Linked DNA regions of Homo sapiens. The protein of the gene in region 3 purifies or fractionates together with the protein of the main gene of each other region. This does not show direct contact. Each region holds a gene or a part of one and is shown on either strand. Other genes may lie near its edges. The genes, in order: HS3ST6, NTPCR and ROS1.

What was found.
Region 1: the proteins of ROS1 (region 3) and HS3ST6 purify together in Homo sapiens (affinity purification with mass spectrometry; one large-scale study listed by BioGRID and IntAct). This does not show direct contact.
Region 2: the proteins of ROS1 (region 3) and NTPCR purify together in Homo sapiens (affinity purification with mass spectrometry; one large-scale study listed by BioGRID and IntAct). This does not show direct contact.

Annotation. Positions count from the first base shown.
Region 1 is NC_000016.10:1,916,171-1,919,921, reverse strand, and holds the start of HS3ST6 (heparan sulfate glucosamine 3-O-sulfotransferase 6), read left to right. Parts: upstream 1-1,506; 5' UTR 1,507-1,598; coding exon 1,599-2,011; intron 2,012-2,443; exon of another isoform or gene 2,444-2,555; intron 2,556-3,751. UniProt on the Homo sapiens protein: Sulfotransferase that utilizes 3'-phospho-5'-adenylyl sulfate (PAPS) to catalyze the transfer of a sulfo group to heparan sulfate.
Region 2 is NC_000001.11:232,953,462-232,957,112, forward strand, and holds part of NTPCR (cancer-related nucleoside-triphosphatase), read left to right. Parts: intron 1-2,095; coding exon 2,096-2,258; intron 2,259-2,885; coding exon 2,886-2,982; coding exon of another isoform or gene 2,983-2,986; intron 2,987-3,651. UniProt on the Homo sapiens protein: Has nucleotide phosphatase activity towards ATP, GTP, CTP, TTP and UTP. Hydrolyzes nucleoside diphosphates with lower efficiency.
Region 3 is NC_000006.12:117,419,335-117,422,985, forward strand, and holds part of ROS1 (proto-oncogene tyrosine-protein kinase ROS isoform 3 precursor), read right to left. Parts: intron 1-3,651. UniProt on the Homo sapiens protein: Receptor tyrosine kinase (RTK) that plays a role in epithelial cell differentiation and regionalization of the proximal epididymal epithelium. NELL2 is an endogenous ligand for ROS1.

The DNA.
Region 1 (3,751 bases), on a different chromosome or scaffold from region 3:
AAGAAGAATTTCCTGTGACCCAGCATAAGCCAGCATGCTCTCCTCGCATTGTGCCCGCTGCCTGCCCACGGGGCTCCTGCAGAGGCTTGCCCAGATGAGCAGGTGCAGCCCGCATGTCTGGAGCCGGGGCTGGGGGACTGGTCAGTGGTCTTCACCCCGTCAGCCCCGTGTGGCCCCCTCTGGCCAGGGCTGCTGCTGGGTAGGAGCTCCGGAATGTCTGTGGGTCGTGGAGGCCTTCGGCCCCTTGAGGCAGCCCGGCTGCTGGGACTTGTCCAGATGCCATCAGGGCTGGAACGGCTCATTAACGCAGCAGAGCCCAGGACAGGGGCCGCAAGCCCTTGGCTGGGAAGAGGCTGGGCCTCTGCCGGGAGCCTGTGCCGTGCCTGCCTGGCGCCAGCCCTGTGGCCAGGAAGGCTGGGGCAGAGGTGGAGAGAGGACCCGGGTCTCATACCACCTTTGCCTTCGGATGGGGCAAGTTGCTCGCCCTCTCTGAGCCCGGCTCGCCTCCCCTGCCTTCCCTGCAGGCTGCTGCTGGGCGTTGGGGATGTGAAGTTCCCGCAGTGTCTAGCGGCCCCCGCAGGTCCCACCCGAGAGGCCCCTGAATCTCACGCCCCTCAGAGGCAGCCCCTGGGGGAGGTCCTGGGCTCCTTCTCTTCCCCAGCACAGGGGTCCCTGAGTCCTTTGTACTCCAGTGGGGTCCACTTTGCCAGCTTCCGAAATGCATCACTGATGTCTCTGGGCAGTGCCAGGTGGACCAAGGCTGGGCAGATGGGGTGACTTAGTAGACAGAGTATGTCTCAGGCCTGAATTCAGTTCACCACTGGGCCCCTGGGAGGGAAACCTATTTTCTCTGAGCCTGTCCCCTCCATTCTAAAACAGTAACCAGAGGTGACTTGACCTCTCAGCGGCCAGGCTGTGACCCGATGTGTGACTGTCAGCTGGGAGTGCAGGACGCACGCCATTCCCGGCCGCAGACTCCCCCCACACGTTCTGGGATCCCTCTCTGCACACTAGGGTGCTGTCCCGGCCTCTTTCTCCCTTGGCAGGCCGAGTGCCCGGATCGACGCTTTTCCTGGGTCCCCTTGGCCTGGCGATGAGGCTCCCGCTCCTGCAGGCCAAGGCTTGGCCTATGCACCTGCCGCGCACGTCCCGGAGTGGGGTGGGGGGGGAAGGGGATCGGTCTTCAAACAGAGGGTCCCGAGGCCCGCGCGCCGCCCTGTCCCTGCCCTGCGTCCCGAACGGCCACCGCCGCCGCATCCTCCCCGCGCAGAGGTGAAGATGCCGGAGTCAAGCGAGCCAGGGCCTGGGATCTCGGAGCAGGAGCGTCCTGGTGGTCCCGGCAGCTCGAGTCGCGCCCGGGTGGTGGCGGCTGCCGGCGGGTCCAGCCCAGGCAGTGGCCTCGGAGGCGGAGTGGGCGGGGGAGGGGGAGGGGGGAGGGCGTCCAGACCCCGCCCCCGGTCCCGCCCCGCGCCCGCTCCCAGGCTGCGGGACCGCCGGGCGCAGAGCACAAGCCGGGCACCCACGGACTGAGCGGCGCGCGGGCCGAGATGCGCGCCCGCCTGCTGCCCCCGCTCCCGGGCCTGGAGCGGCGCGACCCCATGGCAGGTAGCGGCGGCCTGGGCGGCGGGGCCGGGGGCGGCCAGGGCGCAGGGGCCGGGCAAGGGGCCGCTCTGCGGGCGTCCCGCGCGCCGATGCTGCTCGTGGCCCTGGTGCTCGGCGCCTACTGCCTCTGCGCCCTCCCCGGCCGCTGCCCGCCGGCCGCCCGCGCCCCCGCGCCGGCCCCCGCGCCCTCCGAGCCGTCCAGCTCCGTCCACCGCCCGGGAGCACCCGGCCTGCCTTTGGCCAGCGGTCCCGGCCGCCGGCGCTTCCCGCAAGCGCTCATCGTTGGCGTGAAGAAGGGCGGCACGCGCGCCCTGCTGGAGTTTCTGCGGCTGCACCCCGACGTCCGCGCGCTGGGCTCTGAGCCCCACTTCTTCGACAGGTGCTACGAGCGCGGCCTCGCCTGGTACCGGTGAGCACCCTGGCCCGTCCGCCCTGACCGGCGCCTTCCTGGGGAGGGTATCGTGCGCCCCAGGGAGCAGCGGCACGATATCCTGCCTCCCAGGGAGCAGGGGTGCGCTCCGGGCAGTGGGGTTGGGACCGCCCTGTGGGGGCCCCAGGCTTGACCTGGGGTCCCGGCTCCGGAAGAAGGAATGATACTTGGCTAGGATTCCCTGAAACTTTGAAAACTGTGGGGAAAGCCCCGGTTCCGTTCTCTCTGCTGAGGGACCCAGCAGGACTGGGGGAGGCGGTGGCTTCCCAGCCCAGAGGTCGTTTCCAGCCCGTGGGATTACCTGGCAGCGTCAGAAATGCCTCTGCCGCCCGCTCACTCTGGGCACTCAGGTGTGACCGACCGCTGGCCAGGTACTGTAGAAAGGGGCCTCCAGGTTCCAGGCAGCCACCTAGAAAGCGTCCTTCCTCCCCAAGACCCCCGAGTCTGCGCACAGGAACCCTTGTTGGTGGTCCTGGGAGTCCGGAGAAAGTCTGGGCTTTGGAAAGGAGGAGACTGCCTTTAGGTGAGTGCCCAGGGTGAGTCCAGCCCCGTGCATGGGGCTCTGTGGCTGTCCTGCCTCTACCCAGGATGGACGTGGGGGTGCGGCAGCCTCAGCTGAAGCAGCCCGCGCTGGTGGCTGCTCATCCCCAAGCTTGGACCCAGCGCCTGCAGAGAGGACCCTGCCCAAGGCCAGTTGGGGAGTCAGTGGGGGTGGCAGGACCCAGACGCTTCTCCAGGTGCTCCAGTTTCTCCGTTCCCGATCCTCTGATCCTCTTCCTTCCCTGACGCCTACCCCTATTTGTTAACTTTGCCTTTTGTACTAAAACTACTCTTGGGTTTGGAGGGCAGGCAGGAAGGGGCTCCGTGAGAATAGGGTGGCTCGCTTCTGAGATCTGAAGGGCTGGTGCCAGTGTGGGGTGCTGGGGAAGTCAGGTGGTGGCTAGGGGACATGGAGTCCATCCCGGGGCTCACCTGGCTGAATTGGGCATCCTCAGCTCAGGCTCCAGGGAGAGACCTCACTCCCCTGACGGCAGGCAGGGGTCAGAATGCATCCCTAATCCCTGCTGCAGGGAGGAGGGTAGGAGGGGCTACCAAGCTAGAAGCTGGGGAGGAGGGGAGTGGCGAGACGGGGGAGGAGGGGAGAGGCGGGAGGGGGAAGGGGAGAAAGGGCTTTGGGTTAAGGATGCACAGTTAACTGGAGTAAACACTTCAGAGCCACCCCTGAGCCCCATGAGCTTTGACAGCAAGAGACTGGGGGTGGGATCTGAGCTGGGCCGTGAGGAGCCACAGGGGAAGCTAGGGTTGGGTTTAGCCCTAAAGGGTTCTGGAAGAGCCCAGGCTCCTGAGGCCAGTCCAGGCCCGCCCTGGGCATGTGTCCAGCGCTGGGGGATCAGTTTGGGGAGGATGAGAGGCAGCCAAGGCCAGGCCCAACTTGGGAGTCAGCTCCTTAGCCTGGGGGTGGGGTTCCGGGGACACTGACGTGCCCAGGGTTGGAGGGGGGTACAGGAGAGTGACTGCTCTGGTAGATTCTTGACGTCCTCATTTTTTAGAAGGGGGAGGGGTGGGTGTGGAGAATTCCAAGGGGTCAGTCCCGTGGCTTCTGCCTCATTAATCTGGTATTGTCCCTTGGACCAACTGTGCTGACCCCTCACTGGGCGGTGCAGAGCCAGTAGAGCTGGGCCTGCTGAGCTTCCGCATTGCAAGTGTCCTCATGCTCTC
Region 2 (3,651 bases), on a different chromosome or scaffold from region 3:
TTGCTCTACTATGTTCTACACAACATACAGTCCCCACAGTATACCCTTTGTGAACAGGAATAGTTACCGTTGCTCCATTTTATCTTTTTCAAAATATAAACGGCAATTTTTGTTAGGATAAGAGTAAGACCCATTCAGTATAAGAATTAAAAAAAACAAGAAAAGTTTAAGGAAGAAAGTGACAATCACAGGGAATTTGAACATCAGAAATCAACATTGTAAATCTTTGTTCTGTATTCTTCTTGACATTTTTTTTTTCTGTAGACACGTACTTGACCATTCTTTAAAAAAAACATAATGGAATGGTTTCTGCTATTAACCTGCTTTTTCCATATATTATTTTCATACATTGTGGTCTATTTTCCATGCTAATAAATACATATAAGCAGTATATTTTTTAATGGTTGCATGGTATTTCTGTGTATTTATGTGCTATTATATACATGGTGCCATGAGTTAACATTCCCTTACAATCAACATTTAGGTTGTTTTCAGTGTTTTGCTATTATAAAGAATGTTGCAGTGAATGTCCTCTTTCACACATTTGTATTGTTGATGTTTCCTGAGGATGAATTCCTAGTCATGAACTACAGGGTGCTGTGGCAGGCGCATTGAAATTGCCCTTCAGAAAAGAAGTAGCAGCTTACACATTCGGCAATGCCATTACTTGCATGAAACAGATTCTTTAGTGACTTTCCTAAAGCAGTTGTTACTGATGGCCAGGGCTGGATTAGAATGTCATCATTTTATGTTCTACACAGTTCTACCAGCTGCATGCTCACTGTGGCTTACTGTAGCCAGAATCCTGTTGTGTTGCTGTTCATGTTCCAGAAAGCCAGGTGCCATTATTTTAATGTGAAGTGTGAAGATAGATACATTAAATAAGAATAATGGATCATATTTTATGTCAAGGAGGCTTAAAAGAGTGGGTAGTCTTAGAAATAGCATGATTTGCAACTCTGTAGTATCTCAAAATAGCTCACTTGCAGACATGCTAGGAGTTTTCTCTCTCTTTCCATTGTTGGGTAGTCATGATGCCACTTACTTAAATCCATATTGGGAACAAGGCTCATATTTTAAAAAGTCATGGTGACAGGTAAAGTCCCCTGTTGAAAGGTATGGACCTTATGAGGGGTATAGCCTTGGGTAAAATACCTAACCACCATGTACCTCAGTTTCTCCATCTGTAAAATATGCATAAGGATGGTAATTGCCTCAGAGGATGGTTGTGAGGACTTAACCAAGAAAATGCTTCCAAAGTGTGCTAGAACAGTGTCTGGCTCCATGACGTCAGTGATGAGTATTACTATATTAGGTAGCACCTGTTGGTGCTTACAAACCAGTGAGTTCATCAGAGTAGTCAGCTGACCAGGCTGGATGGACAGGAAGGATCAAGGTGGGGAGGCTGAGGGGGCAGAGGTACATAGGTTCAAACTGGGGAAGGTGTGGGGGATAAAGGTGAAGAAATGCTTAGAGACCCTGGAGAAGATGATGTTGGAAGGAGTTGCTAACCTGATAGGCTTGCTGTTATGAAAAAGTTTGAAAGTGACCATTAACAGGGATGCTAATGATATTTAAGAGACACATTTTCAGGAGTTACAACAATGTAAGTCAAAGGAGGAACAAAGTGATTTTCCCACTGTTAAGTGTAGGTCCGTTTGTAATCTCTTGAAAGCTGAAATCTTAAATTCCCAGCCCCTGACTCAAGTGTGACCAGTGTTACTTCCTGGGCAGAAAAATGGGAACTGTAAACCATTTCACAGGATGCAAATGGCATGGGAGAATATCATCAGGAACCTCTCAGTTGATTCTGGGATTGTGTACGTGACAAAATTAACAATGTTTCACAATTTAAAAATAAACCTCAAGATATCATTCGTGTTTTTATTATGCTTGTTTCTACTTGAAATTAAGCATTTTTAGCACCTGGAGCAATCAAAATTAAATTGAAGTTCATATTCATAAATCCATTTACAGCCCATTTCTCTACCCACCATAATTGCTGCCTCAGAGTCCACAAGTGCTGTGTGTGCTCTAGTAAGGGAATGTTTCCTAATGGGCTTTTCTTCTTTTTTTTTTTTTTTTTTTATTTTAGGAGTTGGAAAAACAACATTGATCCATAAAGCCAGTGAGGTTTTAAAATCCTCTGGTGTGCCTGTTGATGGATTTTATACCGAAGAAGTCAGACAGGGAGGGAGAAGAATAGGATTCGATGTCGTCACGTTGTCCGGCACCCGGGGGCCTTTATCGAGAGTTGGGTACTGATATTTCATTTCTGTGGTGTTCTATTATCTAAGCTCCCCTTCCATCTGTGCTTTGGGAGCTTTTCAACAAGAGCTAAATTCACCAAAAGCAGATACTCTGTTGGGTCCTTGGATGCCCATCTGCTTTCCCTTTAGGTTGAGAGTGTCTCCCTGGGCACAGGGTTGAGCCAAATGTTGTCATCTATCCTCAAGAATCTTAGGCCTTTAGGGATTTCTCAGAGAAAGAAAACAGAATGAAACCATCACATGAAAAAAGTATAAGAAAGTGATATTTTACTTAAAACTTGTTCACCAAGTCATAAACTCCTCTCACTTTATAATTCTTAGTCCTGTTTCTGGTGCCACTTTTCAAAGACTGTTGATGCAGTAGCTGCTTGGACCTTAAGAGATAGCCCTGCCATAACTGCAAGGCCCATTGTTGGAGGTGTGGACACTTTGAACAGGGTAGCTCTGTTCAAAGCAGAGAAAACCTGATCAGCTTTACAGACCACCGCATTTTGTGTTGGTCATTTTTAAGGATGATTTAGCATATGTGGAATGCCAGAGGCTCAGTGGAGCAGCTAAAAACCAGAAATCAATACAGGAGTTTTTCAACAAAGAACATAATGTCTTTTCCTTCAGGTTAGAGCCTCCACCTGGAAAACGTGAATGCCGAGTTGGGCAGTATGTGGTCGACCTGACTTCTTTTGAGCAGTTGGCACTACCCGTCTTGAGGAATGTGAGTACGTGATTTCTGCTTTTTGAACCCATCTGCTCTTAGTGTATTGTGGGAATTGCTAGCCATGGAAACAGAATGCCTTTTGCTCTTAAAGGCCCCAGTTTTGCATTTTACAATTGAAAAGATTGAGTCTTAATAAGGATAAACAACATAATTTGCTATCACTCTGAGCTACAGATAAATTCCTATAAATTCAGTACATATAAATATTTTATTTTGGAAAGGCTCTTGATGCCCAGGTACCAACATTCCCAAAGATAAGTCTTTCCTCTGTCTTCTCACAGTCATGTCTTAACCTGGTTTCACAGCACAACAAACATTTAGGAAGAGAAAATGTCATTATATGAACATAATAGCCAGTTGTTATTGAATGCCTACCAAGTACTGTAAGCAGTTAACGTATTATATTATTATATTACCTTTTTTAAAAAAGAAAAAAACTTTATTGACATCTTACGGCTTCTTTCTTTCTACTTTGAATGCCTTTTATTTCATTTGCTTGCCTAATTACCCTGGCTAGAACCTCCAGTCCAACATTGAATAAAAGTGGTGAGAGTAGACATCCTTATCTTATTCCTAATCTTAGAAAGAAAGTATTTAGTCTTTCACCATTATGTATGATGTTAACTGTGTCTTATTTGTATAGAGTTTACTCAGGCGTATTTTGTT
Region 3 (3,651 bases):
AAAACATTATCCAATGGCTTAATATTGTGTGGGTTGACTTGAAAAGTAATCAGACTCAAGAACCAAAGAACAAATGTTGCCTGTTTTTTTCTTTAATTTGAAGCATGAGTGAGGATTCCTTTAAACTCCGTTCCCTAACCGGTTATATTTGTAGGAAAAGAAGAAGGATGATTATTGGCTTTTGTTTTTAGATAATAAACATTTAGACAGTAAGAATTCTATCTGTTAGATGAATTTTGCAACCGAGTGCTTAATAGTACTGTGTTTTCATGATTTTGTTCAAAAGTTGGTTGAATCGCAAGCAAATAAAAATCAGGTGAGAGATAATGAGTTGAAAATTGAATCTTTTCCTACCCCTTCAAAAATGCATGTTAACTCATAAAAGCAAAAGGGTGGATGCTGGGTAGTCTTTGTGTTCCATTTTAAACAGTAGGAGAGCAGAGATATTTCTTGATGATCATAGTCACACTGTAACGGTAGTGAGTCCTGATGGCTCTTCTCAGGAGTAAATTTAACGGGCTGAGTGAAATGACCATCAAATGGTCTTGGGCAGGGTAGCCTCACAGTCAGGTCTAAGGGTTTCTAATGAGGCAGATTTTGTCAACACTCTTCCCTAATCTCCACTCATTCCCCATTCTTCTCCTCACAATTACAATAGCTAACATTTATTGAATTATTGCTATGTTTCAGGCACTCTTATAGGTGTTTTACACTAAATCTCATTGAATCATCTCAGCAACCCTATAAGGTAGCTGCTATAATTAACCTCATTTTACAGCTGGGGCACAGGGAAGTTTAGTAAATTACCTGGATTAGGATTTGAAGGGGGCAGAGTGATTGACTCCAGAACCTGTGCTCTTAACCGGATGCCTTCCATAATCTCCACCAAAATCACATTTTTCATTTTGAACATTAGGATCCCCGCTGGTTTGCCTTAGCTCCAACTACGCCAATTATCTGCTTCCAGTAGTCAAATTCAGTCCCAGATCTCAAACTTTCTTAACCTAATACCCACTTCTTGACATAAGCTTTTCTATTCTGCCCACCTCAGGCAGAACTAATCTCATTCTTTACTTCCTACCCTAATAAATGTTGTGGGGTGGGGGGAGGGGGGAGGGATAGCATTAGGAGATATACCTAATGCTAAATGACGAGTTAATGGGTGCAGCACACCAACATGGCACAAGTATACATATGTAACAAAACTGAACATTGTGCACATGTACCCTAAAACTTAAAGTATAATAATAATAAAATTTTAAATAATAATAATAATAATAATAATAAATGGAACAGAGCAGAATGATCTGTATTTTAATTCCACATGATATTTGCTCCCAATGTGATATTCTCAAAGTTACCTGTGCCATCTAAACTTAGTGGTCGTATCCGGGACATAAGTAGGATAATACTTAATTCATAAGCTTCTGTGAAGATTCAATTAAATGCAATAATTATTATAGTGCAGTGCAGGCACTTAGAAATGTATTAGTAGTATTATGTCCCAACTTGCTGTTAACAGCCTTTTGCATACATATCTTTGGTTAGTTAAACAATAATATCCTCAGATAAATTTGATGCATAAATTAGAGGTATATTTTCTCTTTCAATTTTGAGATTTAATAACGCATTCTTTTCTAGAAATTTATCCATTTACATCCAACCAACAATTCATGAAAATAGAAGTTTACCTGTACCTTTTCCCAACTATAAATGTTTTTATCTTTGCCAATTTGATAGAAGAAAAATTGATAATTTATTTTTATTCTGCAATTCTGTGGTTGCTGTGAGGTTGAATATCTATCACATGCTTTTTAGCCATTTTTATAATATATATTATATATTATATTGGAATATATGAATTGGAATACATATTATATTGGAATTATATATATTATATTGCAATATATATATATATAGGAAATATATATATATTTCCAATACCTTTTGGGGTACAAGTGGTTTTTGGTTACATGGATAAATTATATAGTGGTGAAGTCTGAGATCTTAGTGCACCTTTCACCCAAGTAGTATACATTGTACCCAACATGTAGTTTTTCATCCCTCACTCCTCTCCTTCCCTCCCCCTTCTGAGTCTCCAAAGTCCATTATACCACTCTGCATGCTTTTGTGTACCCATAGCTTAGCTACCACTTATAAGTGAGAACATACGGTATTTGGTTTTCTATTCCTGGCCAAATAATGGCCTCCATAGAATAATGGCCTCCAGCTCCATCCAAGTTGCTGCAAAGACATTATTTCATTCCTTTTTATGGCTGAGTAGTATTCCATGGTGTATATATATCACATTTTTTTATCCACTCATCAGTTGATGGACACTTATACTTCTTTTTTGAAGTGGCTGTTTATATTCTAAATTCATCTTACATGCTTTTATGTGTATCAGGGATTTTTTCTTTAAAAACATTATTTATCATGTGTAATACTTTTTTTCCACTTTTTGGCTTTGCAGTTATTGTATACTGTTGTCATAACAGTTTAAGTTTCTAAGTAGTCAAATTTATTGATAATTTCTTTTTAGGGAGTCTAAATTTTTTAATTAGGCTTCTTAAGGCATTTCTACTTCAAGATTACAGAAACAGTCACCCCAATTTCTTCTAATATTTTTATGAAGTAAACACTTGCTTTGTTTTGTTTATTTGTCTGTTTGCATTTAAGTAAACCTTTCTGTTTTTGTTTCTTAGAAACAGAGTCACCCAGGCTGGAGCACAGTGGTGTAATCACAGCTGACAGCATCCTCGACCTCCCTGCTCAATCAATCCTCCCACCTCAGCCTCCTAAGTAGCTGGGACTACAGGTGCATGCCACCACGCCTAGCTAATTTTTGTATTTGTTGTAGAGACAGGAGTCTCACCATGTTGCCCAGGCTGGTCTCAAACTCCTGGGCTGAAGGGAACTGTCCGCCTCAGCCTCCCATAGTGCTGGAATTACAGGCATGAGCCATCGCACTTAACCAAAAGTCATACCTTTTTACAAAATATATCCTGAAATTTATTTGAATCTGGCAGTTATGTAGGAATTTTTTATGCTACATGGATAGCAACTCATTGGTTTGAATTGTCATCTTTATCATATTTCACATTCTTTATGTACATGGTTTTATTTCTTGATTGTATTCTGTTTTACTCACAGGTTTATTCCTGTAGCAATAAAAACTATGCTAATTTGTAAATATTTTATAAAATTTCTGAATTATGATCTTATTATATTATTTTGTTTTAATGTTATATATTGATATACAAGACAATTTTTCATGTCTGTACATTAATTTTTTAAAAATCTTCCAAATCCTATTATTTCTAATAGTCTTTCAGTTGATTTTCAGTTTATTTCTTTGGAACTTAAGATACAAATCAAAAATAAATGTATTGTCATCACCCTCTAATATTATAAAAGCACATCATGTTTGTAACAGCCTTTAACTGTCTAGTGATAGAAACCTTGATATCTCAGTATTTGATAACTTACTTTAGGGCATTGATTACATAATTCACTTCTTTTGTATTCCGAATTGCATCCACCACAGAGCTGAATATACATAGATACCTAGGAAAATTTATTGAATGGAATCCATTCAATAAATTGATATTGAATGAAATTTATTGAATGGAATTGATACTCCTGAGCCCT